Homo sapiens: one gene and its partners. The protein of the gene in region 1 purifies or fractionates together with the protein of each later gene. This does not show direct contact. Each region holds a gene or a part of one and is shown on either strand. Other genes may lie near its edges.

Region 1 (7,028 bases):
TAGGTAATAAGCCATGATTCAAACCTAGGTAATTGGTCACAGAAGCCACGTGTTTAACCACCTCTATGCTAGACTGCCTCTCCCAGGTGATACTGTTTTCTGCTCAGAACATGACACATAATTATCTAGTCTGATTAGTTTCAGGGAAACATCCTTATAACCTTTCCCAACATTTTTTCTGCTTTTCTACTTTTCTTCCTTCTTACATCATACTATCATGTCCTTAGGAAATTCAATCTCTTTGCCATACTTTGTACTTATAATTTTTATATTCTCCCCTTTTCATCAAATAATTGGTTCTACAAGAAAAAATAGTTTTTATGATAAATAGGTATGACTTTTCCTCTATTTCTTTGGGTTGAATATTGGGTGGGAGGGTTGTATGTTTTTGTGTATGATATTATAAATGAACTCTTAGTCCTACAAGAGGGAGAAAACTTATAGTTTAGGCCCAAGGAGTCAAAAAAAAAAGTCATTTTTTTCTCTTCTCAACCATGTGTACTCCTTTGGCTACTTTTACTTTATTCTCAGAAGGTCTAGAGGAGTTGAGAGTACCTTGACCTAGAACACACAGATGGGATTGGTATTCATCATGTAAGTTTAGGGTCTGTTGGGTAAGATGGCTCCACATAGGGGTTAAATAAGTTTCCTACTCAGAGATGGCCAGCACAGTATAAAGACGCACACTTACAACATCATAGTAGGCAAAGATTTTCTCAAAGTCCCTTTTCCTTTCTTCAGTAGAACAAGCCTGTGTAAGGAAAAAACATTATGTCAGTCCAGCAATGTGACAATTCAGCTGTACAATTCTTCCAGAGTCCTGGGCAAATTTTGTAAACTTTGAGTCAATGACCTTTAAGATCCCTTGATTCCATGCTGATCCTTGTCTGTTTTCTAAATAAGTTAAAAAGTAGGGCAAATAGATGCCTTCCTTTCTTCTTTCCTGCTCAAATCCGTAGAGAAACAGCAATGACATAAACCCATCTAGAGAAATGTCACTACTTACATCCATTTTAAATTGGAGAAGGAAGTTTTCCTGAAGAGCCAGAATCCTAAATAGAAAAAAAAAAAAATCCACGTAAGGATCGTTCAGCTCTCAGTTATACGAAAACTTATAGCCCTGGTGTGTGGAAAGTACAGGCAATTTCCTGCAGAACAGAATAGGTACTTGAAAGACAGAACTTCCTACATCACAGAAACAAAGAAATTAATTGGGAAAAACTCGTAGAGATTAGTAGTCACCATAGACTTTTAAAAGTTCATCTTAGTGGAAAATGGCACAGTATGGGCTTCTGGAAATTCGCTCCTCCATAAAACTGGAAAAAATAGTCAAAATAACTTTCCCAGAGCTCTGGAAAATAATTAAAGTCTTGCAGCAATCTGGGGAGTGTTTATTCTGAAAAAAATCTTTTTTTTTTTTTTGAGACAGAATCTCTCTCTGTCGCCCAGGCTGGAGTGCAGTGGTGCGATCTCGCCTCTCTGCAAGCTCCGCCTCCCAGGTTCACACCATTCTCCTGCCTCAGCCTCCCAAGTAGCTGGGACTACAGGCGCCCGCCACCAGTCCCGGCTAATTTTTTTGTATTTTTAGTAGAGACGGGGTTTCACCGTGTTAGCCAGGATGGTCTCGATCTCCTGACCTCGTGATCCGCCGGGCTCGGCCTCCCAAAGTGCGGGGATTACAGGCGTGAGCCACGGCACCGGGCCTCCAAAACAGCTGAATCTTGGTTAGAACAATGACTGTCGTAGCATTTAACTTGCCCTAACACATACACAGAGCCCGTTAGCAAGAGACTGGGAGACTTACTGGTTCAAGACATTTTAGAAAATCTCTGTCCAATTATGAACTGACCATTGAACTAACCTAGCAGAGACTTCAGTGGACACACCTGACAAAGAATATAGACTTCATAGAATTAGTTCAGAAAAGTCACCAAATAAACAACAAAAGTCATCAATACACCAGAAACATGACCTATAAGAAATACTAAAGGGAGTCCTTCAGGCTGAAATTAAAGGACACTAGACATTAACTTAAATCCACATGAAACAATAAAGAGCACCAGGAGCGGTAAATATATAACCAAATATAAAACACAGCATAAATGTATTTTTTGTGTGTAACTTTTTTGCTTTCTGATTTAAATGACAATTTCATAAAACAATAACTAAAAATCTATGTTGTGGAGCACACAATATATAAAGATAAAATTTTAACAACAGAAAGGAGGAGAAAGGCATTTGAACTATACAGAAGTAAAATTTGGGGTATAATATTGAAATTAAATTGTTATTAATCCACAATTAGATTTGATATAAATTAAGATGTTAATTGTAATCTAGCAGACAACCACTAAGAAAATAACTCAAAAAAAATGCAAAACAAATAATAAGGGAATTAAAATAGTACACTGGAAAATGTCTGTTGAACGTGCAGGAGGCAGTAATGGAAGGACAGAAGAATTTTAAAAAAGCTTAAGACAAAGAGAAACAAATAGCAAATATAAATCCTACCTTCTCAGTAATCACGTTAAATATACACATATTAAATACTCCATTAAAAGCAGAGATTGGCAGAATAGAAAGAAGTAAAACTATCTCTTTATAGATGATACAATATTGTATATAGAAAATCCTAAGGAATCCAACAAAAAACTACTAGAGCTAATACACAAATCCAGCATGTTGGCAGAATACCAGATTAATATAAAAAATTCAATGACATTTCTATACATTAACAATGGGCAGTCCAAAAGTGGAATTCAGAATACTAATCGTTTCATGATAGCATCAAAAAGAATAAAATATTTAATAAATTTAACAAAAGTGGTTTAGTTTGTAGACCGAAAACTACAAAACATTGTTGAAAGAAATTAAAGAGCTAAGTAAATGAAAAGACATCCCATGTTCATACACTGGGAGACTTAATATTTTTAAGGAGACAACACTTCCCAAATTGATCTGCAGATTCAAAACAATCCCCATCAAAATCTGAATTGGTTTTTTTGCAGAAATTGACAATCTGGTCCTAAAATTAATGTGAATATGCAAATGAACCAGGATAGCCAAAACAATCTTGAAAAAGAGGAACAAAGTTTGAGGACTCACATTTTTTATTTCAAAATTTGCCTGCAAATCTACAGAATCAAGATAGTGTGATATTGGCATAAGGACAGATATGTAGATAAATGGAATAGAATTGAGAGTACAGAAATAAACCCATACATATGGCCAGTTTATTTTCAGAAAGGGTGCCAAGACCATTCAGTAAGGAAAAATATTCAAGAAATGGTGTTGGGACAAGTAGATATCTACATGCAAAATAATGAAATTGTGCCCCCACCTTACACTGTATTAAACAATTAACATGAAAAGGATTTACATAAAACAGAAACTTTATAGTTTATATAACTCTTAGAAGGAAACAAACGGGTAAATCTTCATGAGCTTGGATTTTGGCAATGGCTTCCTAGATATGACATCTAAAACACAAACAACCAAAAAAATTAGACAAATTGGACTTCATGAGAATTAAAAACATTTGTGCTTCAAAGGACATCATCAAGAAAATGAAAACACGACTCTCATAATGGAAAAAAGTTTTTGCTGATTATACATCTGATAAGTGTCTAGTGCACAGAATATATACAGGACTCTTATAGTTCAACAACAAAAGGACAAATCGCCCAATTTTTCAACTGGGCAAAGAATCTGAACAGACATTTCTCCAAAGAAGACATACAAATTGCCAATAAAACATAAAAAATGTTCGAAATGCAAATCACAATGACATACTACTTCACACCCACTAGGATGATTATAATTAAAAGAAAGATGCAAACAATAACAAGTGCTGATTAGAATATGGAGAAATTAAAATCCTGATACATTGTTGGTGGGAATGTAAAATGGTGCAGCCACTTTAGAAAACACTTTGGCAGTACCTCAGAAAATTAAATGTAAAATTACGACACGAACCAAAAATTCTGCTCCTTAATATATAACCAAGAGAATCACAAACGTATATTTGTCCCAAAACATGTAGCAACGTTATTCATAATCTCTAAAAAGTGAAAACAACTCAAATGAACATCAGCTGATGAATGGACAAAATGTGGTATGTACATACAAGGGACTATTATTCAGCCATAAAAAGGGATAAAGTTACAACATGAATGAACCTTGAAAACATTACTCCAAGTGAAATAGCCAGATAGGAAAGGCACATATTGTGTGATTCCATTTATATAAAATGCCCAAAATAGGAAAGTCGATAGAAATAGAAAGTAGATTGGTGGTTGCCAGGGCCTTGTGGGAGGAGGAAGAGAGGAGTGACTGCTGATGTGTACTGGGTATCCTTCTGGCATAATGAAATGTTCTAAAATTAGATATTGGTGATGGTTGGACAACCTTATGAATATCTTAAAATCTACCAAATTGTAGATTGGTAGATCTGACTTTAAAAGGGTAAACTTTAAGGTACATAAATTATGTCTCAATTTTAAAATAATCTTGTTTTTGTTTTAGAAAGCAAATATGTCTGCCTCTTTTCTGTATAATTATAATTATAATTATACTTTAATAGAATACAGTCAGTTTCAGTAAATTCAACATTAGATTTATGTTGTATTCATAGTCATGAGGATATATAGAAAAAGTAGAAAAAATGTAATACAACTATGTGGAAAATCTTTGCTCCTCCAAATGCTCAGAGTAGAGGGAATTAATTTGAGCCAATTAGAAGACAGAATATCCTGGAGGTCTGCCAGGAATATTGTTCTTAGTATTTGCAGGCACCAGGCAGCCTAAATCATGTTGCCAGTCACAGCACATATTACTTGGGAGGTGCTTTTATGTAGAGGAATTGAACTGCATTTCACAGCTGAAAGTAGAGAGAGAAAAATCCTATCTGGAAATGTTTTAAGGCCTCTTTGTTGTTGTATTAGTTTCCTAGTGCTGCTGCGACACACTGCCACAAACATAGTGGCTTCAAATAACCATAATCATTTACAGCACTAGAAGCTGAAGTCTGAAATCGATCTCACTGGGCAAAATTCAAGCTGTCGACACGGCCTCATTCCTTCTGGAGGTTCTCGGGGAGAATCCTTTCCCTTGCCTTTTTCAGGTTCTAGAGGCTGCCTACATTCTTTAGCCTCTTCTTCCACTTTAAAGCCAGCAACTAGCATTTTCAAATCTCTCCGTGACTCTGACCTTCTGCCTCCCTCTTCCATATTTAAAGGATCTTTGTTATTATATTGGGCCCAATGTGGATAATCCAGAATAATCTCTATTTTAAAGTCTATTGATTAGCAAACTTAATTAGATCTGCAACTTTAATTCATTCTTGCCATGTAACATAAAATAGTCACCAGTTCTGGATATTAGGATGTGGATATCTTTTTTTTCCTTTCTTTTTTTGAGATAGAATCTTGCTCAGTCACCTAACTAGAGTACTGTGACGCAATCTTGGCTCACTGCAAACTCTGCCTCCTGAGTTCAAGCGATTCTCCTGCCTGAGCCTCTTGAAGAGCTGGAACTACAGGCATGCACCACCACACCCAGCTAATTTTATTTTATTTTATTTTTTGTATTTTTAGTAGACACAGGGTTTCACTATGCTGGCCAGGCTGGCCTCAAACTCTGACCTCAAGTGATGCACCTGCCTCGGCCTCCCACAGTGCTGGGATTACAAGTGTGAGCCACTGCACCCAGCCTAAGACGTGGACATCTTTATTCTGCTTACCACAGTTCACATTTTCAAATTCCGTATCAAACTGGTTTTGAAATACACTTGGCACCCCCTATCTGTGGGTTCTTCAGGGCCAATTGTGGGACTTGAACATCCGAGGATTTGGGTATCTGGTATCCGCGGAGGTTCTGGAACCAATCCCCAGAGGATACTTAGGGAAGACTGTACTATACTAACTGATTTTGCTGCCTTTCATCTCTGTTCAGTGCTACTGTAACTCCATCAATTCACAACTACTCATTGAATCCCCCCAAGTACACAACACTCCACCAAGTGAGAAGTTATTCAAGGGATTAGAGCATAGTCCCTGCCCTACCAGCAGGACCATAGCAAACCCGCCTCTACAGAGTGTTTAGACTCATGCAGAAGGCCCTATTAGTTATCACAGTGATAAAGGGGGCACAACTAGCATTTTGTACATAGGGCTAGGGATATTAGGTTTCTGGCATTGCATGGAAATTTCTGCAGAATGAAGAATTGCCCCATGTCTCACTTGAATTTCAAATGTCCAGGGGGCAATCGTGACTGTAAAAACCCTGCTTTTAATTATTTGTGCTTGGAACTGAATTCTTATTTGCATAAAACTCAAGGTTTGCATAATTTACTACTTACATAAATTTTCCACATGGTATATGAATTGTGTTAAGAGATTAACATACTTTGTCTCATTTGGAACTCTGTCAAGACTTATTATTTCATAAAATCATATCAACAGCACCTGAGTTACCAAAATGTCACAATTGTATCAGTCGGCATCTGAGCTGCCCCATTTATGATAATTCTACCCAGGTGAAAGCATCTGACCACTTCACTATATCTTCACTATGATTGTATGCAAGCACTTATACACTGAAATGTGCATTATTTTATCATTAACTGCTTTCCTTTTATTTCTCCTTTATATGTTACAGTCTGTGCATGATGTTAGTTATTTTAGCATTGTATACATAGGTAGGTCATATTGTGTATGGACTAAGAGGGCAGAGAGCAGCTGCTCTGAGCCCTTTATTACCCCAGCCTCCCAGGGCACACAGGGCTCCTCAACTCTCACTACCTCTGAGACGTGCACAACTGAGTCAGGGCACAGGTGGATAGATGCTTTTGGTGAAGGGAACCATGAGATTGCAAGCTTTTGTTTTCATCTAGATTGTCATCTATTGAATGAATCCTTTGGTGGCTTTGGGATTGGCTCTTTCACATAGCTCTCTGACCTCTACTTGAGAGGAACCCTGCCTCCATTGACCAAGAGAACCAGGTGGGATCCAGGGAGCAGAGGCGAGAT
Region 2 (7,028 bases), on another chromosome or scaffold:
AGCCACGACCTAGTAGGACTTCACTTGCCTCTCAAGACTAAAGTATTTTGAATTCAGGATTTTTTTTTTTTTTTTTTTTGAGACAGGGTCTTGCTCTGTAAGTACAGTGGCCCAACCATGGCTCACTGCAACCTGGATCTCCTGGGCTCAAGTGATCCTCCCACCTCAACCTCCTCAGTAGGCGGAACCACAGGTACACATGCCACCACACCCAGCTAAATTTTTTTTGGAGTGACCGGTCTCACGATGTTGCCCAGGCTGGTCTTGAATTCCTTGAGCTCAAACTCTTATTTTAAATTATCCAGGGATAATTTTAAAATGGATAACTTAAAATGGATATTTTAAATGGATAATTTAAAATAAGAGTGCCTTAAAGCTTCCTGATCCTACGGCAAGAAGCAAACGTCTGGGGGGAACACTGGAAACTGAGGTCATCTCTACAGGAACCCAAGTGGATATTTTAAATGGATAATTTAAAATAAGAGTGACTTAAAGCCTCCATTAATCAAGGCAATGATCCTCCTGTATTAGCCTCCCAAAGTGCTGGGATTGTAGGTGTGAGCCACTGCCCCTGGCCAGGAAAATTTTAAATTGTATGATTACACTATGATCCTCTACAGTAAAAAAAAAAATACATTTCAGGGCTATCAAAATATATAAAAGTAACATATGTAAAATACACAGAATAGTGCATGACACTAAAATAGTATTTATTAAGTTCATAAATTTTACTGCATTTTACTTTGACTTTAAATGTACATTTTTCTAATGCCTAATAAATACCTAATCTTACTATCTTCTTTATTTTTAAGGCCAGAAACTGAACTACATACTCAGTTTGACTTTTAGATAAGAGTTTTGGCCAGGCATGATAGCTCAACCCTGTAATCCCAGCACTTTGGGAGGCCAAGGTAGGCAGACTGCTTGAGGTCAGGAGTTCAAGACCAGCCTGGTCATCATGGAGAAACCCCGTCTCTACTAAAAATACAAAAAAATCAGCGGGGCGTGGTGGCGGAGACTATAGTTCCAGCTGCTCAAAAGGCTGAGGCATGAGAACTGCTTGAGCCTGGGAGGTGGAGGGTTCAGTGAGCTGAGAACCTACCACTGTACTCCAGCCTGCGCGACAGAGCAAGACTCCGTCTCAAAAAAAAAAAAAAGTTTTATATTAATCTTTAACCCATGATTCTGATGCTATCTGTAAGTTTATTTGATATATAATGTTTAGTTCATCAATTTAGGTAACTCAAATTCATCAGCTGAGAGAAAAATATTAAGCCCAATGTTAACAAGGAAAGCAGCAGTATTTTTTCCCCCACTCACAGCAGACATGAGAGAGGTCCTTCACACAATTCCCAAGAGTATACTAAAATTTTGATGAAATTTCTCAAAGTTGATGGTACACGTAAAAAGTATCACAAACTTCTCCAGACTGTATTATGAGTATGTGAAGAGTGAAATCAGTTCAATATCTCAAAAATATTCAATTAAAATATCAGTAGTCCAATTTTTAAATTAAATATTTTTTAAGTGAGTCTTGATTATTCCTAGGCAATGTAAAGAAAGCAAGTAGTTTTATAGTTTAAAATTATAATAGAATAACAAATACATAAATACAAAAAATTTACAGAGTAATAATTATGAATATAAACAACAGTAGCACAAGTTGTGCTAATAACATCACCTTAGATTTGGTAACAGAATTATGTGGTCTAAGGTCCATAGCATTATTTTTGCCCAAGGTAGGTGATAAAATACCTTTCATTGCTTTTTTTCTCCTGAGAAACTTATTTTTTGTAAAAGCAAAAAGAAAATAGAAATAGAAATTCAGTTCTCCAAGAATTACAGTAATTCATAGTCATCACCATTATGAAAAATACATCAATAAAAATTTCTCATTATGAAGAGGGCACAAATAAAATACACTACCGGCTTGGTGTGGTGGCTCACGCCTGTAACCCCAGCGCTTTGTGAAGCTGAGATGGGAGGATTACTTGAGGCCAAGAATTCAAGACCAACCTGGGTAACATAGTGAGACTCCATCTCTACAAAAAATTAAAAAATTAGCTGGGTATAGTAGCACATGCCTGTAGTCCCAGCTACTCGGGAGGCTGAGGTGGGAGGATTGCTGAAGCCCAGGTGTTTGAGGCAGCAGTGAACTACGACTGCACCACCACACTCCAGCCTGGGTGATAGAGACCCTGTCTCTAAAAATGAAATAAAGTAAGACTATGGATTATGTACTATGCCCATTAAAACAATGATAAGCTCACCTCTTTCTTCCGTTTTCAAAGTATGTCAAAATTCAAGTAAGTAAAGTGTATTACTACAAAAAATATCCCTCGACCCAACATCCATATATCAACAATCATTAAAACCTACCTTACAAATGATAAAATATTTCACTGATTCTCAACTTTGTGGCCAAAAATTGATAGTGTAGTTATAATTGTATAATTAGCAGAGACTTCAAAACAACTTTAGAACTGTGGTATTTTAATCATAATCTCAATCCCACTATGGGGAAGGAGAAATGAAAGGTTTCCCTAGAATGTTTATAATAGGATTGGTGGAGTAGAAGAAAAGAATAGTTGGGGTGGGGAGCAGCCTGTAATCCCAGCACTTTGTGATACTGAGGTGGGAGGATCGCTTGAGCCTGGGAGTTTGAGACCAGCCTGGGCAACGGCAAGACCCCATCTCTACAAAAATTTAAAAACTAGCTGAGTGTGGTGGCATGTGAGTGTGGTCCCAGCTATTTGGGAGGCTTAGGTGGGAAGATCTCTCGAGCCCCAGAGGTGGAAGCCGCAGTGAGACTTAGTCGCATCACTGCACTCCAACCTGCATGACAGAGTAAGACTTTGTCTCAAAAATACAAAGATAATTGGATTTTATGAAAATCACAGTATCATAATTTTATCATCTTAAAATAAGGATATGCTATACTGAAGGAATTTGATACAGAAAATGTCTGAGAAGGGGTACATATGGAACAAAAAAATATGAGACATTCTCTCAAATGAATTTACGAAAATTCTAAGGTGGCATGTTCCTCCACAAATTATAAATTCTTAGGGAAAAATAACTTTGTTGCCAAAGCTACCAAGTAGATGGTTGCTGTACTGCTTTCAAGCTACAGCACAAGCATGCCTGGAGGGCTAGGCTAGATTATTTCTGAATGAACTTCAATAATAATTCCCACAACACAAACTGAGTACTCATTAAGTTCTTGACACTGTATTAAGTATTGTATATATATCACATGAATGCTCACAGCAAGACTATGAGTTAAATTATTCTCCTTAAAGAGAAGGAAACTGAGGCAGAGAGGTTATATAATTTACTCAAGATAACACAGTAAGTGGTAGACCCCTGATAATCTGGCTTCTAATAACTATCCTAAAATATTGATTACACACTTAACTATGTGCCAGGGACAAAACTCAGTCAATTTGGCTATCATATACTCATATACACTTTCTTTATTCCAAGTGTTTCCTACATGGAAATGAATTTGTCATTATAAATCTTAATAAATCATAATGACACATTCATAAGACAGAACTATGAAATGTATAGTTCAGAAAGTAACTCTTTTTTTTTTTTTTTGAGACACCGTCTCGCTCTGTTGCCCAGGATAGAGTGCACTGGCGTGATCTTGGCTCACTGCAACCTCTGCCTCCCAGGTTCGAGCAATTCTCCTGCCTCAGTCTCCCGAGTAGCTGAGATTACAGGCACCCGCCATCATGCCCAGCTAATTTTTGTATTTTTAGTAGAGATGGTGTTTTCTCACATTGGCCAGGCTGGTCTCGAACTCCTGACCTCAGGTGATCCACCTGCCTAGGCCTCCCAAAATGGTGGGATTACAGGCATGAGCCACCATGCCCAGCCCAGAAATTAACTCTTAAACTAGCATTAAAATACTCAGTGTACAAACCACATAAAACTGCATGAAATCTAAGAATTATTGTTACCAGTCTGTCAAAAGTTTTGGTAAACTTTAAAAGAAACAAAGACAGTAAAATGTCAGAAAATATGAAATACACAATATTTGTCACATCACATAGATCACTGGTAGATAAATAACTATAGTATGATATGGCCAACTAAATAATTTTAAAACTGCTAAATAATACAACTTATTCCCAGAAATAATTCCCAATTAGGTAATCACGCTTCATTAATCATAACTCCCAAGTTCACAAAAGTATGGCAAAGCTAACGCATTCATGCTCTGCTGACAGTGTAAACTCGCTCAAGTCTTTGGGGAGGCAAAAATCTGGCAACTGTAGAAACATTTATATCCTTTGACTAGTAATTCATTTGAGATTAGTATCCTATAGAAACAATTCATAAAAGAAAAAATGCACAGAGATGTTCAATTCAATGTCAAAATAGGCATAAACTGAAAACTATTATTTTCCTGTCAGGCATTTAGAACAAATTTAATACTTATTTTTCAACTATCAAGTAACAATCAAATATCATAAAGGTTATACAACATGGAAAAATACAATGCTATAAAAGTAAAATAAAACTTATTTGATATAATTCTGTAAAAACTGCAATATATATGCACAAACTAGAAGAAAACAAAAATAATGAACACAATTATTTGTTAGTATGGCAAAACAAGTTGATATATAAAAAAATTGTTCCGACACGTTTAATAAATAAAAGCAGGCTGGGTGCAGTGGCTCATGCCTGTAATCCCAGCACTTTGGGAGGCCGAGGTGGGCGGATCACAAGGTCAGAAGATCGAGACCATCCTAGCTAACACGGTGAAACCCCGTCTCTACTAAAAATATTAAAAAATTTGCCGGGCGTGGTGGTGGGTGCCTGTAGTCCCAGCTACTTGGGAGGCTGAGGCAGGAGAATGGCATGAACCTGGGAGGCGGAGCTTGCAGTGAGCCAAGATCGTGCCACTGCACTCCAGCCTGGGCAACAGAGCGAGACTCTGTCTCAAAAAATAAATAAATAAATAAATAAATAAATAAATAAATAAATAAATAAATGCAAGCAAACATACTAGCCCGAACAGTAAAATTAGAAAAACCAAAGCTATAACATTGGAGCAAAGCTAAAAAAATTAGAATGACAAAGGTTTCGGTTCTGCTAGCAAACTAAAGAATATTTAGGGAATATATTTATAAACTTATGGTCAATATTATAGATAAAAATACTATATATTACAAAAATAACCAAAGTCCATATGGTATTTTGCCAATTACAATTATTTCTCCCTGTCTTTCCCTACCAGTCTTGTTGAGAATCTCTGTGGTAATAAGCCACTACTACTGTTGGAAGTATTTTGTATTCCTTGGGTAGAAAGGCAAAAAAGTGGCTGAGAACCACTATCTTTGTTAAGATACAGAATGCAAATATGGGTGAATAGGCAAAGCCCCCAAAACATTGTTTACATCTCTTCTTTACTGTCAATGTCAAAATGCCAAGGAAAAAAAATCAATAAACATACTTAAAAAATGAAAAATGATGCTGGGTGGTGGCTCATGCCTGTAATTCCAACACTTTGGGAGGCCGAGGCAGGTTCGAGACCAGCCTGGCCAACATGGTGAAACCCCGTTTCTATTAAAAATACAAAAATTAGCCAGGTGTGGTGGCGGGCACCTGTAATCCCAGCTACTCAGGAGGCTGAGGCAGGAGAATCACTTGAACCTGGGAGGCAGAGGTTACAATGAGCTGAGAGCGGCACTGCACTCCAGCCTGGGTGACATAGCAACTCCGTCTCAAAAAAAAAAAAAAGAAAAGTGAAAATGAATACACTAGTTTCAAGGTTGCCAACAAGAATAAATTGAAAAGATATATATAATGAATACATATTTATTTATAATTATATAATATGTAACATTAAATACACCTGTAACACAATGTGTAAAAATAGGCCCGGGTGCAGTGGCTCATGCCTGTAATGCCTTAAAAGTGAAAATGAATACACCAGTTTCAAGGTTGTCAAAAAGTCTCAACAAATTGAAAAGACACATATAATGAATACATATTTATTTATATTTATATAATATGTAACATTAAATATATTTATATTATAAAATAATGTGTAAAAATAGGCCTAGTGTAGTGGCTCACGCCTGTAATCCCAACACTTTGAGAGGCCAAGGCGAGTGGATCACTCGAGGCCAGGAAGTCGAGATCAGCCTGGCCAACATGGTGAAACCCCATCTCTACTAAAAATACAAAAATCAGCAGGGAATGGTGGTGCACCCCTGTAATCCTAGTTATTCGGGAGGCTCAGACAGGAGAACCGCTTGAATCCGGGAGGTGGAGATTGCAGTGAGCCAAGACTGCACCACTGCACTCCAGCGTGGAAGCCAGAGGGAGACTCTGTCTCAAAAATAAAATAAGATAAAATACAATTACTGATGGCCTTAAAGATCCACAAATTTCCTTGATTTTCTATGAAACTATCTTATACCTTACTATATAACCTTTTAACCTTGAGAAACATAACAAAGGAAATAAAATGTTCTCTGGGGTTTTCCTTCAAATAGAAATAGGTGAATACTATCCTACTACTTCAACATTAAAACTTACATAAAGAGAACATGCAGCATTTTAGACAAGTTCTTAGCCTTGAGGAACAGGTGTGAGTATGAGATAAACACAGAAATACTAAATTAAACTCCAGATTATAACAATACTAAGTGAATTTTTTGGTTTTTGTTTTGTTTTGAGATGCAGTCTCATTCTGTTGCCCAGGCTAGAGTGCAGTGGCACGATCGGCTCTCACTGCAGCCTCCTGCTCCTAGGTGCTAGCGATTCTCCTGCCTCAGCCTCCCCAGTAGCTGGGATTGCAGGCGCCTACCAACGTGGTTTCACCATGTTGGCCAGGCTGGTCTTGAACTCCTGACCTCAGCTGATCCGCCTGCCTCAGCCTCCCAAAGTGCTGGGATTACAGGCGTGAGCTACCACACCTGGCTAAGGTGGGATTTTTTTTAGGGTACATTTTAATTATACAAAATAACCCAACAGGTGCTATATGCATTGACTTTTATAAAAAT
Region 3 (7,028 bases), on another chromosome or scaffold:
GTAGGTATAACCTATTATATAAACCATCTTAAACTTAAATCTCCATGTACAAAAAAGACTAAGAATATCTAATAATAACTAGTGCAGTGCGTCAGTTTTTGTTTTTTTTTTGTTTTGTTTTGAAAGAATAACTAGGTAATATATGAAACTAGTTTCACACTCTCTGGTTGGTAAAAGAGATGCTGGGTGAGCTACAGTAAAGGCAGCCTTTTACCAAGTTACCACCTATTACCGTCAAAAGCCTTCAATAGAAAGCAAAGCTCCAGGATCATTCTGTTTCTGCTCAGTATCAGACAGATAACCTTACCCTCAAAGATTCTGGGTTCTGAGAGAACAAACTGGCCCAGGATGCTAACTTCTGCTTCAAGTGAATCTGGGCCGTGTGGGGCAACAAGCACTTGTTTGCAGTCTATATTTTCCACCACTTGGACTCACTAGCATCCCTCGGTAAAGACAAGGCTAGGGTAGTAGGTAAAGCACAATGTTTTACAATGAAAGGGCGCTTCACTGGTCAGCGCAGGAAATAAGTACAGGAGCCTGCGGCATTTCTTTTGGCTGTCCATCATGGGTGAGCGGAGTTGACCTCTGACCTCTGTAAAATAAAAGGAAGAAAAAGTCACTTATTCAGCATATGTTATTAGAGACAGGAGAGGACGATGAATAACAAGTGTGTTCCAATATCTTGTTTAACAGTTACTGCTGTTACTTACATCATTTAATGAAAACTGTTTTTGCTTTAGAGTTTTTTCTCTTCTGTCCCCTTCCTTATCCTTTTTTTCCCCTTCCTCCTTCCCATTCTGTCTCCCTTCCTAAGATTTTATATCTGAATTCCCCTCATACAACTCAACAGCATACCCTCTGGCCTCAAACAACTAACCACTTCCATTTTGAAGAGATGAAATTTTAAGTACCAACAGATTTGGGGCAACTCTTTAAGAAGTGGGAAAATTTCAATCAAGGACTGGGGTTCTTGGACAATAATTTTCCTGTTGATCCATTGGTATTAAAAATGACACATTCCTTTTCTTGACTTGCCTGAAGGGAAAGTTCTCCTATAGTAATTGGTAACCTTCAGGTAATTTAGTGATAATAAAAGCAATGACTCTGGAAGAGAAACAGAGATGGACTGTGACTCCAAAAAAAAAAAAAGGAATGAAGAAACAATAAAACCCTCTGAACTCACATGCACATGGACAGAGAGTGTTTAGAGGAAGAAAACAAGCACTGATGCTGGATTTTAGATTTTAACAAAATCTACCCTAGTTGGGTGAAAATCAATACACATGGAGGGAGAACTCCAGACAGGACTAGAAAATTCATGGAAATTTTCATCATTTGGATAGAACCTATGCCAAACATAGCTGATTTTTCATTCAGCTTTTGTATAATTAGTAGTAAAAATACAATTTACTTCATGGTTATGAGAAAACTGTCCAAAATTCTTGGTAATTTCTACAGAGCTTCTCATTCTAAAAAGATAGGACTGGGTACTTCCTTGACATTTTCCAACAGGCCTACCAATCCTAGAAAATGCACACTCACTGCTCTGTAACCTACAATGGTCTGTAGTGCATAACACTGTGCTGAAAATATGTGATGTATCAGCAATGTTTTCATTGGGATGACCTTTCAAAATCGTATCTTCTTCAGAGTACATAGAACAAAAGGAGCTATTTCAAGATTTAGCTTGTACCTGCTCTATAACTATACTCAAGTTTCTCTTGATGCACAAAAAAGAAAAATAATGTAGACAAATTGCAACATTTGGGGGTTTCAGAATCAAATGATCACTTAATAGCCCAAGATATTTAGGATTTTAGAAAAGCAAAACATTTTAGAATCAAACCTCTGGATTAAGCTATTCACATGTGGATGTTATAGATACCACCTGTTCAATATGTTCAGCTCTTTGTTCAAGAAAGATGAAATTAAAATGCTACTTTTTACTTTTAAGATATTAAAAGACCCAAAAGAATTTTAATAAGTATTAGAAAAGGAAAAAAAAAAACAAAAAAGATGAAAAGTGCAATGTAAAAAAAGATGGCAAGAAGGAGAGAGAAATTGGGGTGAAAGTCCAGCTAAATCAATGGAAAAAGGAAAGAAGTCAGAATCACAGTGGGAGAGGACTATGTGCTGCAACTGATGATTCTAGCTCCCAGAGGAAGGGTCAGGTGAGATTCTTCATGATTTTCTCTGACATGACTGAAGCTTTCCTTTGGCAGTACGCGAGATAAGGAGTTCAAATCTTGACTTGGGCACAAATTGGCTGTGTGCTCTTGGCAAGTTAATTAACGGTCATTAAAATGGGACTAAAAAGGCCCACTTGGGAGGGCTAATTTAACTTCTAGTAAATAAACTGGTCTCTTAACAAAGGTTTGTTCCAACTCTCTATTTTGTGTATTTTGTAAAACTGTCTAAGTTAGGTTTCTGAACCTAACGTTAGATTTTTTCATGGCATGAGTGCAGGTCGTATATTTCCACCCCTAACTCCATGGGCCACCCTTTAAACTATGAACCGAGTTGATGCTGAAGTAATGCTTACTTCATTGGTATGCAACCCAGGTTCAATAACAGTGAGCCTACAGGTAGAAGCCTGGTGGGTAGATCTGCTTTAACAGGTAGGGGCTCAAGTTACAGCTAAGACTCTCCAGGGTGATCTGTCCTTCTAGCTATTAAGAACACTAACCATTTATTAGGTTGATGGTAAAATTCTAGTAATCATTACTGTTCTTTCTAATGGAAGGTTAAAAAAAATAAAAAGAATCTTTACTCACATTATTTTTTCTATACCTGTTATCTAACTTAGGCAGTCATACTTCAGAAACTACCTCATTTATTCATTCACCCACTCATTTGTTCATTTATCAATTGTTATAACAGGAACTAAGCAAGCTGGTAACATAGAGAATAAAACCACTGTTTTGCTTTCAAAATATACTGAAAGTAGACAGAAGTATCGACAAATCAATACATCCCAATGTGGTCTGAGAGAGGTGTGAGCATAGCATGCAGGAGCAACAAGAAACACACAGCCTAGGGCATCAGGAGGACTGAGAGAAGAGGACCGGGGACTAGGGTGGGGAGAAGGAGAGCAGTTCACCTGATCAGAGGATGTACAAGGCAAGAGCTTGGCGTATCTGGAAAGGGGTAAGTGATTCCACCTAACTGCAGGGTAGGGAGTGTGGAGGGCAGAGACAATGAGATTGGAAAGGTTTGCTGTGGCTTTCTGCTGATGCAAATTGGGAACCATGGAGGGCTGGTTAACAGAGCAACGGTGTGACCACGCTTAGAACACAGGCAGCAGCCAAGCTGCTTATGTGCTAGCCTTTTCCTACCCTTGAATTATTATCCCTCTCTCAATTCTCAGATTCCCTCTTATTTCCACAATTCACAGGGACACTTAATAACATTCAGGCAGATATTTTAAGTTCTCACTGCACGTGTATGTGCTTGTCCTCTATCCTTGACTGCACAACTCCACAAATGGAGAAGTATCTGTGCATTGTCTCCCTCAGAGACCTCACTGAATTTTAACAATGTCTGTGAGCATTCACTTGCTATTAGGAACTTGCAGTGTACACATAAAGAGGAATTTGACTTCTTGGAAATATCTAGAGGCTATTTGTGAGGAAGTACTCAAACTGTAATATGACAGGTAAATAGCAAGAAGCAAACCAAGCTCACGTCAGGGGACTCCAGGTTTACCTGGATGTCAAAAAGGAGCATGGGGCCTACAGCTGGCTACACAAGCTGCACTGGGTTGAGAGCTCTTTTGTACTGAAGACTGAAAGTCTAAGAAAGCAGCTCATCCATGGGTAATCCACTTTGAATAGGAATATAAAATACCTGAATTTACAACAGGCTTTTTTGCCTTCCCAAAGGATCCATTAAGTAGCAGAATACCCAATTATACACTTAGAACTTAATATACTTTCTGTGGGGCTTCGCTGAGTTCAAAGGGTTTTCACATCTATGATCTCGTCTGATGCTTACAACTTCGTAATTCTTTGGCGATATCACTATGCTCAATGTGTGCTGAGAAAACTAAAGTCCAGAGAAAAAAATTACTTTGTAGGAAATCACAGAAGAGTTGAAGAAAAATCCAGGCCTCTGGCTGCCATGAGTCAGATGCCAAAATGCTCTTTCCCTTGAACTGCACTGTCTTCTGATGGCTGGTGATGGCACCAACACCATCACCAATAAGGGGCATTCCACACACCAGCACTGGGATGCTAGAGTTACCCCACATAACATCTCTGTGAAATGAGTGCCACCTGCCCCTGTTTTTTTAGAGGAAAAAAACCAAGGGTAGAGAGGTTAATAATCTTGGTCAAGATCTTTCGGTTTGCAGGTGATGGAGCTAGGACTCAAACCTCAGTCTGCAATGGGACTCCAAAGCTCATTGGTCAGATAATACTGCTTCCCTGCTCTCAGGCTTTTTACGGAAATGAAGTTTAGCCACAGGATAACATATTCAAAATAAAATACTTGGCTGACTATATTCCCTGGTATTTTCCCGCACTGCTAATTAGCATATATGCTTTTGTAATACCTCATATAACCAATAGTGCTCTTGAACCAAGTTTGAACCCCAATGCCCTGTAAAAAATGTCACAAATCACATCAAAGAGGTTGATCTGGTTTCCATGTTGCTTTCTCCTTCCACCTTCTACCACTAACCTGTGCACATTTTCCATGGCTGCCACTTCAGCCAGCGCAGCGAGGCTAAAGAACGCAGACACGGCAGGCATTTCTGGAGTACTGCTCCGCGTCTCCCCGACCTCGGTGTTGTGTGAGCATTTGTCATTGCAGTCTGTCTCAGTTGCTTTAGGGAGACTCCTCTGCAGTTGTTCCTTTGGTTTGTCATCTGTAACAAAAGAGAAATCCATCATGAGAGGATCACTCTGTTCTCTCCAGAGAAGAGACATAGAAAACGCTGTGCCAGTCAACATGAAAAGAGCTAACATTCTCTACCATTCACTTTTGCTATCCATCGAATATTAAGGCTTTTACAGAATCTCTTCTCCTCAGTAACAAAGCTCTTTTATTAAGCTTAGTTGCAACTATGGACAGCACTGTGCCCTGAGGCTGAGCTGAAGAGAAGCTGTGTTTTATCTGAGGTCAAAGAATGGGTCAGTCTTGGAGTGAGAAGGAAAAATGAGCCTCAGCTAAAATAAAACCCAAGGGACTTCTGTAGAGGGGCCTGTAGATGCTGTAAAAGAGCCCTTAAAAACCCAACTGACTAAGCATTTCTCATGAAGCTGTAGCATGCCCTACTATGGCAACTTGGACATTGGGTATGCTGTGATACCAACACTTAGGATGGCCTATACAGCACATTAACCAGTTCTAATGAGAGCCCAAGTTGTTATTTTGTTCTAAAGACCTACTGGAGAGAAGACAAAGCCCTCTGGTCTTTACAAAGAGGTGGATGAAATGCTGTGCAAGTATGCCTGCTACAAATGAGTATACTTTCTTTCTTATGTAGCCATTATAGAGAAGGGAAATTTTTATCATAGTTTTAAAAAAATTGTAAATATAGAAAATGACTGATAAAAGCTTTAAATATTATCTATTAGGACACAAAAGTGGTATGACACTTTTCTATGTAAATGGGACTGTTCTCATATTTCTTCACTCCTCCTCCAAGTGAAAACAAATGTGGATGTAACAATCTACAAAATGAAAGTCACAGAACAGAACTCAGATTGGACAGAAAAGGAGGGAGGGGACTGCTGGGCTAAACATCAGGACATCTAGGTGTTAGTCCTCATTCTACTTCTATTGTATTGAATGTACTCAAACAAAAACTTCCACCTCTTTGAATTTTTTCTCTTATATGACAGGGCAAAATCAGGGCCTTTAATATACTCTATGTTTCTAACAATCTAAATATTCAAAACACACAAAAGAAGTGCACAAAATTCATAAACTGTCCTCTAACTAAGCAAACAGTTCCCCTCTATTAACACCTAGATTAACCCAAATCACATAAAATAAAATTGCGGAGGTGCTGAGAGGCAGAAAGGCAACAGCCAAGGCCACTAGTACCTAGCTGGTATAGCACTCCAAGATTTTGCGGCCGGGGGGTCTCAGTATCACTCTTCGGCCACACCCCTTACCTTGGGCTCCTCCGGTCATTCTACTGCCAAAGAGGCTACCAGGAACAGCAAACAGACAACAGGCCATGATTGAAAATGGAGAAATTCACCAGTTGGTGAATTAAATCAGATAACTCAAGAAATCCAGAAGCATTCTCAGGCTCCCTGCATGGTCTAAACCAGTTATATAGGAAGTGAATGTTGGATGCATTTTAAGCTTAATCTACTGGTTTGAATGCCTGGTAATCTGGCTTGTAGTGACCCGAACAGCAGACCATGGTCAAATACTGATTCATCTAGTATCTTTAAAAGTATAGGATCTCCTGGAATTAAGATTGCTTTTGTGCACATTGAGAAAGATAAAGGGAAGATGACAGTCCTAAAAACTACCTTTCTTTTCTAGGAATTCAGATATGCTCTTGGAAAACTAGCTATGATTTTAAACATGGAATAAAACATGTTTGGAGGTCTGTAGAAAGCTGCAGAATAGACTCATTTTTCAGTAGGAACCACAGTTGCTTACAGTCATTTGCTGACATGGTGGTCATCTGCTTGCTCTGGTTATCTCTGTCTAAAGCAAGCTTGTCCAACCCATGGCCTGCAGGCTGCATGTGGCTGGGGACAGCTTTGAATGCAGCCCAACACAAATTCGTAAACTTTCTTAAAACATTCTGAGATTTTTTTGTGTTTGTTGTTGTTGTTTTTTTTTTTGAGACAGAGTCTCACTCTGTCGCCCAGGCTGGAGTGCAGTGGCGCGATCTCGGCTCACTGCAACCTCCGACTCTCGGGTTCACGCCATTCTCCTGCCTCAGCCTCCCAAGCAGCTGGGACTACAGGCACCCACCACCAGGCCCGGCTAATTTTTTGTATTTTTAGTAGAGATGGGGTTTCACAGTGTTAGCCAGGATGGTCTCGATCTCCTGACCT
Region 4 (7,028 bases), on another chromosome or scaffold:
TTCCTCAAGTCTCCTGCCCTACCTCCTCTAACTCAGCAGCAGTGGGACGGGGGGTGAGACGCTCCAGGCGCAAGTGCAGGCGGCCAGATGGGACATCCTCCAGGGTCAGCCACTGTGGAAGTAGGCAGGGTGAAGACTTGGGGATATGCAGACAGGAGAACTTTGAGAATGAAGCTTGGGCAGGATCAGGAGGGGTTGTTGACTCTAATTCAATGCTCACCTCATCAAGGAAGCCACTGTTTAAGACTGTGGTGAGACGCACTTTACACCTGTTGAAGAGAAAGATTAAGACAAAAGCTAGATGGTGAGAACCAAGGAGGCCAGACTCCATGGCCTAAAGAGCCCCAGCCTGTTTTTCACGTAGACTCCTATGCTCTCACCTGCCCAGAAAATCATCCTTGTCCAAGTCCTTGTCAAAGACTTCAACCTCTAGCTCTTGGCCTGGAACTGATGTGACGATCACCTAGTGGGAGAAAATAGTGCAGATGAAAGATTCTCTCCTTTTCCTCTGCAAATGACTGGACCCCCCAGTCAACTGAACCTCAGAGGTTTCTGGACCACTTTTGGGATTGGGGGAAAAATGGGGCAGAACCAGGAGTCACAGCCACTCAATTCTGACCTCAAAAACCTCATTCCAGCGGGGATTGAGATCTTCCCGAACAACATGGCTCCGGAAGCTTCGTCCTGCCAACTTTAGTTTGACATAGGGGTCTGACTTGCCCTTCACCAGTCCCCCCAAGAAACGGTCTTTGGCAATCAGGTCCTGGGCCTCTAATACATGGATCCGAAGCACATGCTGCAAAAGGGACGGGGGGGTGCCAGATGGCAAAGGGAGAGAGACCTGTCAGAATCTGCCCTGAAACAGGCTTTGCATACTTAGCGGGGCAAACAGACCCTAGTCCTTTCCAGATATAGACTCACCTCAGTCCCAAACTGGCTATCAGGAGTCGTGTGACAGGGTCGAGGTGGGGCATCCACACTGCTGCCTCTCTGGGGATTCTCACTGTCCACGTCCCAAGCACCAGGACAACCAGGCACCGTGGGGAAGCATATTTCTGATGAATCCAAGTACAGGATCTAGGAAGGGTAGTATGATGCTGAATCAAAGAAGTGCAGCTCGTCACCAGCAGGCAAAGCATGTGGGGTGGGGTAGAGGAGGGGCTGTGACAGGGGAACTAGGTGCTGCCCTGGCTGGGCTCATCTCTACAGGGTTCCCTCCACACCCCCTCAACTCATAAGCCATTCCTTCCACCAGTCAGATCAATATATGTTTTTGTGCCTGCTTGGCACTTCTACATGTATTAGCTCTTTTAATCTTAGGGGGGTCCCTTTCCTTACTCTTAATACCAAAGAATCAACAGGCCTTTCCCCCACACCTCAGTACCTCCTCTATTTCCATACCCTCATGACTAGTTTCATATAGAGTCTGGAGTTTGGACCAGAGCTGCTGAGCTGGAACCACTGGTCCAGGATGAGTTCTGGGGCAGTCAGCAGGCGGGCCAGAGGCAGCGTCAGTGCTCCTAAAGTCAGGGCCCTGGAATCATCCTTCACCTACAGGCACAGGAGGAAGGACTGTAGTGAAGGGATTAGGGGAAAGGGAGGCATACTGTGAAAATGATAACATGGCTCCAACTTCATTCCTCTCTGTACCAATCACAAACCTCCTGCTCCACTCAGGGCCATCTTTTTTTTTTTTTTTTTTTTGAGACAGAGTCTCACTCTGTCGCCCATGCTGGAGTGCAATGGCGCCATCTTGGCTCACTGCAACTTCGACCTCCTGGGTTCAACCCATTCTCCTACCTCAGCCTCCCAAATAGCTGGGACTACAGGCGCATGCCGTCACGCCCAGCTAAATTTTTGTATTTTTTAGTAGAGACAGGGTTTCATGGTGTTCCCCAGGCTGGTCTCAAACTCCTGAGCTCAGGCAATCCGCCCACCTCGGCCAGAGCCATCTTTTATAGTCCTCTGCCCAATCCATGGCCCCTTCCACCTTTGTTCATTCTGCTCCCACTATTTGGAAAGTCCTCATTCTCTTCCCTCGGCCTATTTAAATCCTACTCATCCTTCAAGACTCAATTAAAATCCAATTTTTTGCTTCACAAAATCTCCCTAGTTACTCCAGCCTATCCCTTTCTCTGACCCTCCTTAGTCCTATACTATGGATATTTTACTCCCACAAATTCATATGTAATTGTTGCTATTCTTCTGTTCCTTTTTTTTTTTTTTTTTTTTTTGGAGACAGAGTCTTGCTCTGTCACCCAGGCTAGAGTGCAGTGCTTGAAATCAGCTCACTACAACTTCTACCTCCCGGGTTCAAATGATTCTTCTGCCTCAGCCTCCCAAGTAGCTGGGATTACTGACACATGCCACCACACCTGGCAAATTTTTGATTTTTTTTTTTTTTTTGAGACGGAGTCTCACTCTGTCACCCAGGCTGGAGTGCAGTGACGCTATCTTGGCTCACTGCAACCTCCGCCTCCCGGACTCAAGCAATTCTACCTCAGCCTCCCAAGTAGCTGGGATTACAGGCACGCACCACCATGCCTGGCTAATTTTTGTATTTTTAGTAGAGATAGGGTTTCACCATGCTGACCAGGCTATTCTCAAACTCCTGACCTCAGGTGATCCACCTGCCTTGGCCTCCCAAAGTGCTAGGATTACAGGTGTGAGCCACCATGCCTGGCCTTAGTTCATATGTACTTGTTCTTGAATGATTTTATATGTGTATGTCTTGTCTATGAAACTGAAACTGGCCAGTGAGTATTGTGAAGGCAGATACTATGTTTTGTGCTTTTTCTATGACCTTTAAAATGCTGAATGTTGGGCCGGGCACGGTGGCTCACGCCTGTAATCCAAGCACTTTGGGAGGCTGAGACGGGCGGATCACCTGAGGTTGGGAGTTCGAGACCAGCCTGACCAACATGGAGAAACCCCGTCTCTACTAAAAATACAAAAAAAATTAGCCAGGCATGGTGGCACATCCCTGTAATCCCAGCTACTCAGGAGGCTGAGGCAGGAGAATCACTTGAACCCAGGAGGTGGAGGTTGCGGTGAGCCGAGACCACGCCATTGCACTCCAGCCTGGGCAACAAAAGCGAAACTGTCTCAAAAAAAAAAAATGCTGAATGTTAGCAATTTTATTGAGGCATAATTTACATACCATAAAATCACTCATTTTAGGTACCGTGCCCAGCCTCAGAATAATTTTTGTATACCTAAAATGAGTGATTCTATGGTATGTAAATTATGCCTCAATAAAATTGTTAACATTCAGCATTTTAAAGGTCATGGAGAAAGCACGAAACATAGCATCTGCTTTCACAATGCTTACTGGCCAGTTTCATAGACAAGACACACATATATAAAATCATTCAAGAACAAGTACCTATGAACTAAGGCCAGGTGCAGTGGCTCATGCCTATAATCCCAGCACTTTGGGAGGCTGAGGCAGGCGGATCATCTGAGGTCAGGAGTTCGAGACCAGCCTGGCCAGCATGGTGAAACCCTGTCTCTACTAAAAATACAAAAATTAGCCGGGCATGGTGGTGCCTGCCTGTAATCCCAGCTACTCGGGAGGCTGAGGCAGGAGAATTGCTTGAACCCAGGTGGTGGAGGTTTCGGTAAGCCGAGATCGCACCACTGCACCCCAGCCTGGGCAACAGAGCGAGACTCCATCTCAAAAAAAAAAAAAAATATTATTCTGGAGCGACAGTTGGGGAACAATGGAGAGATATTCAGGGAGGTGGGGAGTCTAGGTAGATGGATTAAAAATAGGAATCAAGGGAAAAGAAGGAGAGGAGAAATGGTACAGATCTGGGAAGTCAGAATAGGGTATTCGGGAGGGGATGAAGAGGTGATTATCTCACTTGCACATCGAGCTCCTGGCTTTGAGGGTCTTGTAGGAAGAACCGGAACGCTTCCTCCCACACTGGGCAGTTGGTACTGTAGACAGCCTGGAGATGTAGAGGAGGGATTAAGGGTGTATACCACAGCACCATTCCTGTTTCTGCAGAAAACCCCTGCATGTAACAGGCATTCTAAAGGGGAAACCATCCCAAGAATAGGCCTCTCCCTGTCCTACCTGGCCACCCACAATGATGTCCTGGCCCTCACCTTGCTCTCCTGAGTCACATCCTGAATTGACAGTTGTACCATAGGGTTGGGTTCCTTGTTCCCCTTCTTCAGCTGTGGTGGGTACAATTCAGAGGTCACCATCTTGGGGGATTCGGTTTTGGTTTTGGTGAAGGAAGGTGGGATCGCATCAGAATCCTTTCCCTGAGATGGATCTGATCCCCTCCCTGGGACCCTTATGTTACATGCTGATACTTCTGGAGCAAAGCAGGCAGGGACATTTGCATCCTCAGCAAGGCAGGGTTGGGGAATGTTACATCCAGGGCTCCTGTTCACCCAGCCAAACTCACAGGAAGATCCTGGGCCCGATCCAGGTAGACAACTAAGATGGCAGCTGACGGGGGATCTGGTCGAGAGGAGACTCCCCAATTCCACTGTAGAACCTGGGGAGGGGTGGTAGTAGTCAGATCTTGGTCCCCGTTCCAAGTCCCCTACACTTCCAGCTACCTATTTCTCCCCTGCCAGCTTCCTATTTCCCATGTGGCTTACCTGCTCCAGTTTCTCTGCATCTGACAAAAGTGACAGCCATTCTAGCCTCAAGTGAACTTGGCCTTGCCCACCTTGTAGAGGGAACCACTAGAAGAAATTGAGATGTAGTAGAGATCAGATACCTGCTCAACTACTTCCCTACCAATGTAGCAACTACTATCTACCCAAAGGGTGAGATCAGCCCCCACCTTCCTCTTCTCCCAACTTACATCATCCAGAACGCTAGCCTGTAACACCTTCCCTACATCCAGCTTCATTCTGAGGGTTGGCGGGGGAGAGGGTAGTGAAAGGAAGAAAAGGGTAGTGTTGTAATTAGCAGCATGTCAGTGGCCCTCCACTCACCCACCCAGAAATGACTGGCAGATCTCAGACTCCCTTATTCCTCTCAGAAGATATTCACCTGCATGCGTGAGTATGTGCATGGTAGGGGCTGGGGGTGGGGAGGTTAGGAAGGAAAATGATACATGATTCCCAGGCCCAGAAAGTGAGTATAATTACCTCCAGAACCTCGGTAGCATGGGCTTTATTTTTTTTATTTTTATTTTTTTTCTTTAGAGACAGAGTCTCGCTCTGTCGCCCAGGCTGGAGTGCAGTGGCGCGATCTCGGCTCACTGCAAACTCCTCCTCCCGGGTTCACCCACCATTCTCCTGCCTCAGCCTCCCGAGTAGCTGGGAGTACAGGCGCCCGCCACCACACCCGGCTAATTTTTGTATTTTTAGTAGAGATGGGGTTTCACCGTGTTAGCCAGGATGGTCTCAATCTCCTGACCTCGTGATCCGCCCGCCTCAGCCTCCCAAAGTGCTGGGATTACAGGCATGAGCCACCGTGCCTGGCCAGCATGGGCTTTAGAATCCTAACAGGCAGAGTCTCACCTGCCCAGAAAGTCATCTTTATCTGGATCCTTGTCGAACACCTCCACTTCAATCTCCTGCCCTGGGACCTCGTGTACCATCACCTGGGGAACACAGAAGGCTGAGTGTCTCATGGGGCTGCAGCTGTGAGGATCATCCAATCAGCATCTTCTCTCACAACCTCCTGGGGCTTCCCCATTTCACAGAGCTGCTCAACTCTCCCACCTCATAAGTCTCTCCCCACTGTGGGTTGAGTTCTTCATCAATGACACGACTGCAGAATGTCTGGGTACCCAAACGCACAAGTGCATATGGGTCTGACTTGCCCTCAATCAGGCCCTTCACATATTTGTCCTTGGAACTCAGCCCTCGAGCAGCCAGCAGGTGAATTCGAATAATGCCCTGGAGGAAGGAATCAGATGGTGAGAAACTAAGGACCCAGCAAGGGGTTCCTGAGAGAAGGATCTATCTAGTGGGGGAAAGGCCATACCCTGGGCAGAGGGGAACGCAACTGAGCCACATCTTGAAGGTCAGGCACAAGGGGCACCAGTAATCGGTTGGGCAACACGAGGAAGGCAGCAATGGAGTCCATGATCATGGTGTCAGAGAGTGAGCTGAATGGGGGAGTAGAAAGGAGTGGGTATGGCCTCAACTTCCAATTTTCTCCTAACCCCAACTATGTTTCCCACACCCAAGAGAGACCTAAAGCTGTAAGAAAGTCCTTTTGTGAAAATCCTTTGTGCTACTCTTCTACCCTAATTCCCCACCTACTGCTCTCTCCCTTCTTCACTGCCATCCCCATTGCCTTTTGCAGTCTTCAGCCCTCTGCATTCCCTTCCTGCTCCCCCAACCCAAAGAAAAATCACAGTATCAAACTTTGCAGGGGTATTTGTCTTTGCTCCCCAAATGAAGTTGAGGCTCCTAGAGGACACAAGCAGCATCTTTGACTGCTCTGTGTCCCTTAAACCCCCAACCCAGCGCTGGAACACTCAGCAGGTGCTCAGTAAGTCCTTGATACCTAAGTCCTGGGATATCCAGCAGGTTGGTCATCCCTGTCCAGTTGATGTCTAGGGTCTGGAGGGAAAGAGCAGGGGTCAGGACAGATCCTATGGGGTGTGGTCATACCCATCAAACAGTTGCCAGAACCCCTCGGCCTTCTTGTCAGTTCCCTTCTCATTCCCCTTCACTGGCTGCCCTCATCCTCCCAGTCCTCTGTTTCTCCTGCTTCCCCATACCCCTTCATTGTTTTCCCTTACCGGGCGTCGGATGAAGAACATTGACACAGCCCCCACGAAGGGAAGGTCCCCAATGAGTGGCTCCAGTATCACCCGCAAAACGCCATGTAGCTGAGGCAAGAAGAGAAAATCAAAGCCTTTCCCCAGAAAAGTCCCTCTTCTGTCCTCCCAGACTTTCTCAGCCTTGGTCTTTCCAACCTCACACTTCCCCATATCCCATGAAACGCAGGACAAACATTCCCTATTATGTGGCCCCTGACATCTGGCCTACCTGCATGCCCTTGACTCCTGCTTTGCAAAAATATTTCTTCACTTCCACAT

The links.
Region 2: the proteins of SCGN (region 1) and ATF2 purify together in Homo sapiens (affinity purification with mass spectrometry; 3 studies listed by BioGRID and IntAct, with this or other methods). This does not show direct contact.
Region 3: the proteins of SCGN (region 1) and BBX purify together in Homo sapiens (affinity purification with mass spectrometry; 3 studies listed by BioGRID and IntAct, with this or other methods). This does not show direct contact.
Region 4: the proteins of SCGN (region 1) and ESYT1 purify together in Homo sapiens (affinity purification with mass spectrometry; 3 studies listed by BioGRID and IntAct, with this or other methods). This does not show direct contact.

What each region holds. Positions count from the first base shown.
Region 1 is NC_000006.12:25,683,196-25,690,223, reverse strand, and holds part of SCGN (secretagogin), read right to left. Parts: intron 1,053-7,028; coding exon 1,007-1,052; intron 752-1,006; coding exon 692-751; intron 1-691.
Region 2 is NC_000002.12:175,158,176-175,165,203, forward strand, and holds part of ATF2 (cyclic AMP-dependent transcription factor ATF-2), read right to left. Parts: intron 1-7,028. UniProt on the Homo sapiens protein: Transcriptional activator which regulates the transcription of various genes, including those involved in anti-apoptosis, cell growth, and DNA damage response.
Region 3 is NC_000003.12:107,798,934-107,805,961, reverse strand, and holds part of BBX (HMG box transcription factor BBX), read right to left. Parts: intron 4,868-7,028; coding exon 4,681-4,867; intron 593-4,680; coding exon 505-592; coding exon of another isoform or gene 435-504; 3' UTR 1-434. UniProt on the Homo sapiens protein: Transcription factor that is necessary for cell cycle progression from G1 to S phase.
Region 4 is NC_000012.12:56,131,267-56,138,294, reverse strand, and holds part of ESYT1 (extended synaptotagmin-1), read right to left. Parts: coding exon 6,979-7,028; intron 6,819-6,978; coding exon 6,729-6,818; intron 6,547-6,728; coding exon 6,491-6,546; intron 6,087-6,490; coding exon 5,963-6,086; intron 5,875-5,962; coding exon 5,698-5,874; intron 5,577-5,697; coding exon 5,494-5,576; intron 4,879-5,493; coding exon 4,830-4,878; intron 4,708-4,829; coding exon 4,621-4,707; intron 4,515-4,620; coding exon 4,422-4,514; intron 4,216-4,421; coding exon of another isoform or gene 4,186-4,215; coding exon 4,114-4,185; intron 3,954-4,113; coding exon 3,867-3,953; intron 1,552-3,866; coding exon 1,402-1,551; intron 1,078-1,401; coding exon 922-1,077; intron 797-921; coding exon 620-796; intron 464-619; coding exon 381-463; intron 270-380; coding exon 221-269; intron 113-220; coding exon 23-112; intron 1-22. UniProt on the Homo sapiens protein: Binds calcium (via the C2 domains) and translocates to sites of contact between the endoplasmic reticulum and the cell membrane in response to increased cytosolic calcium levels.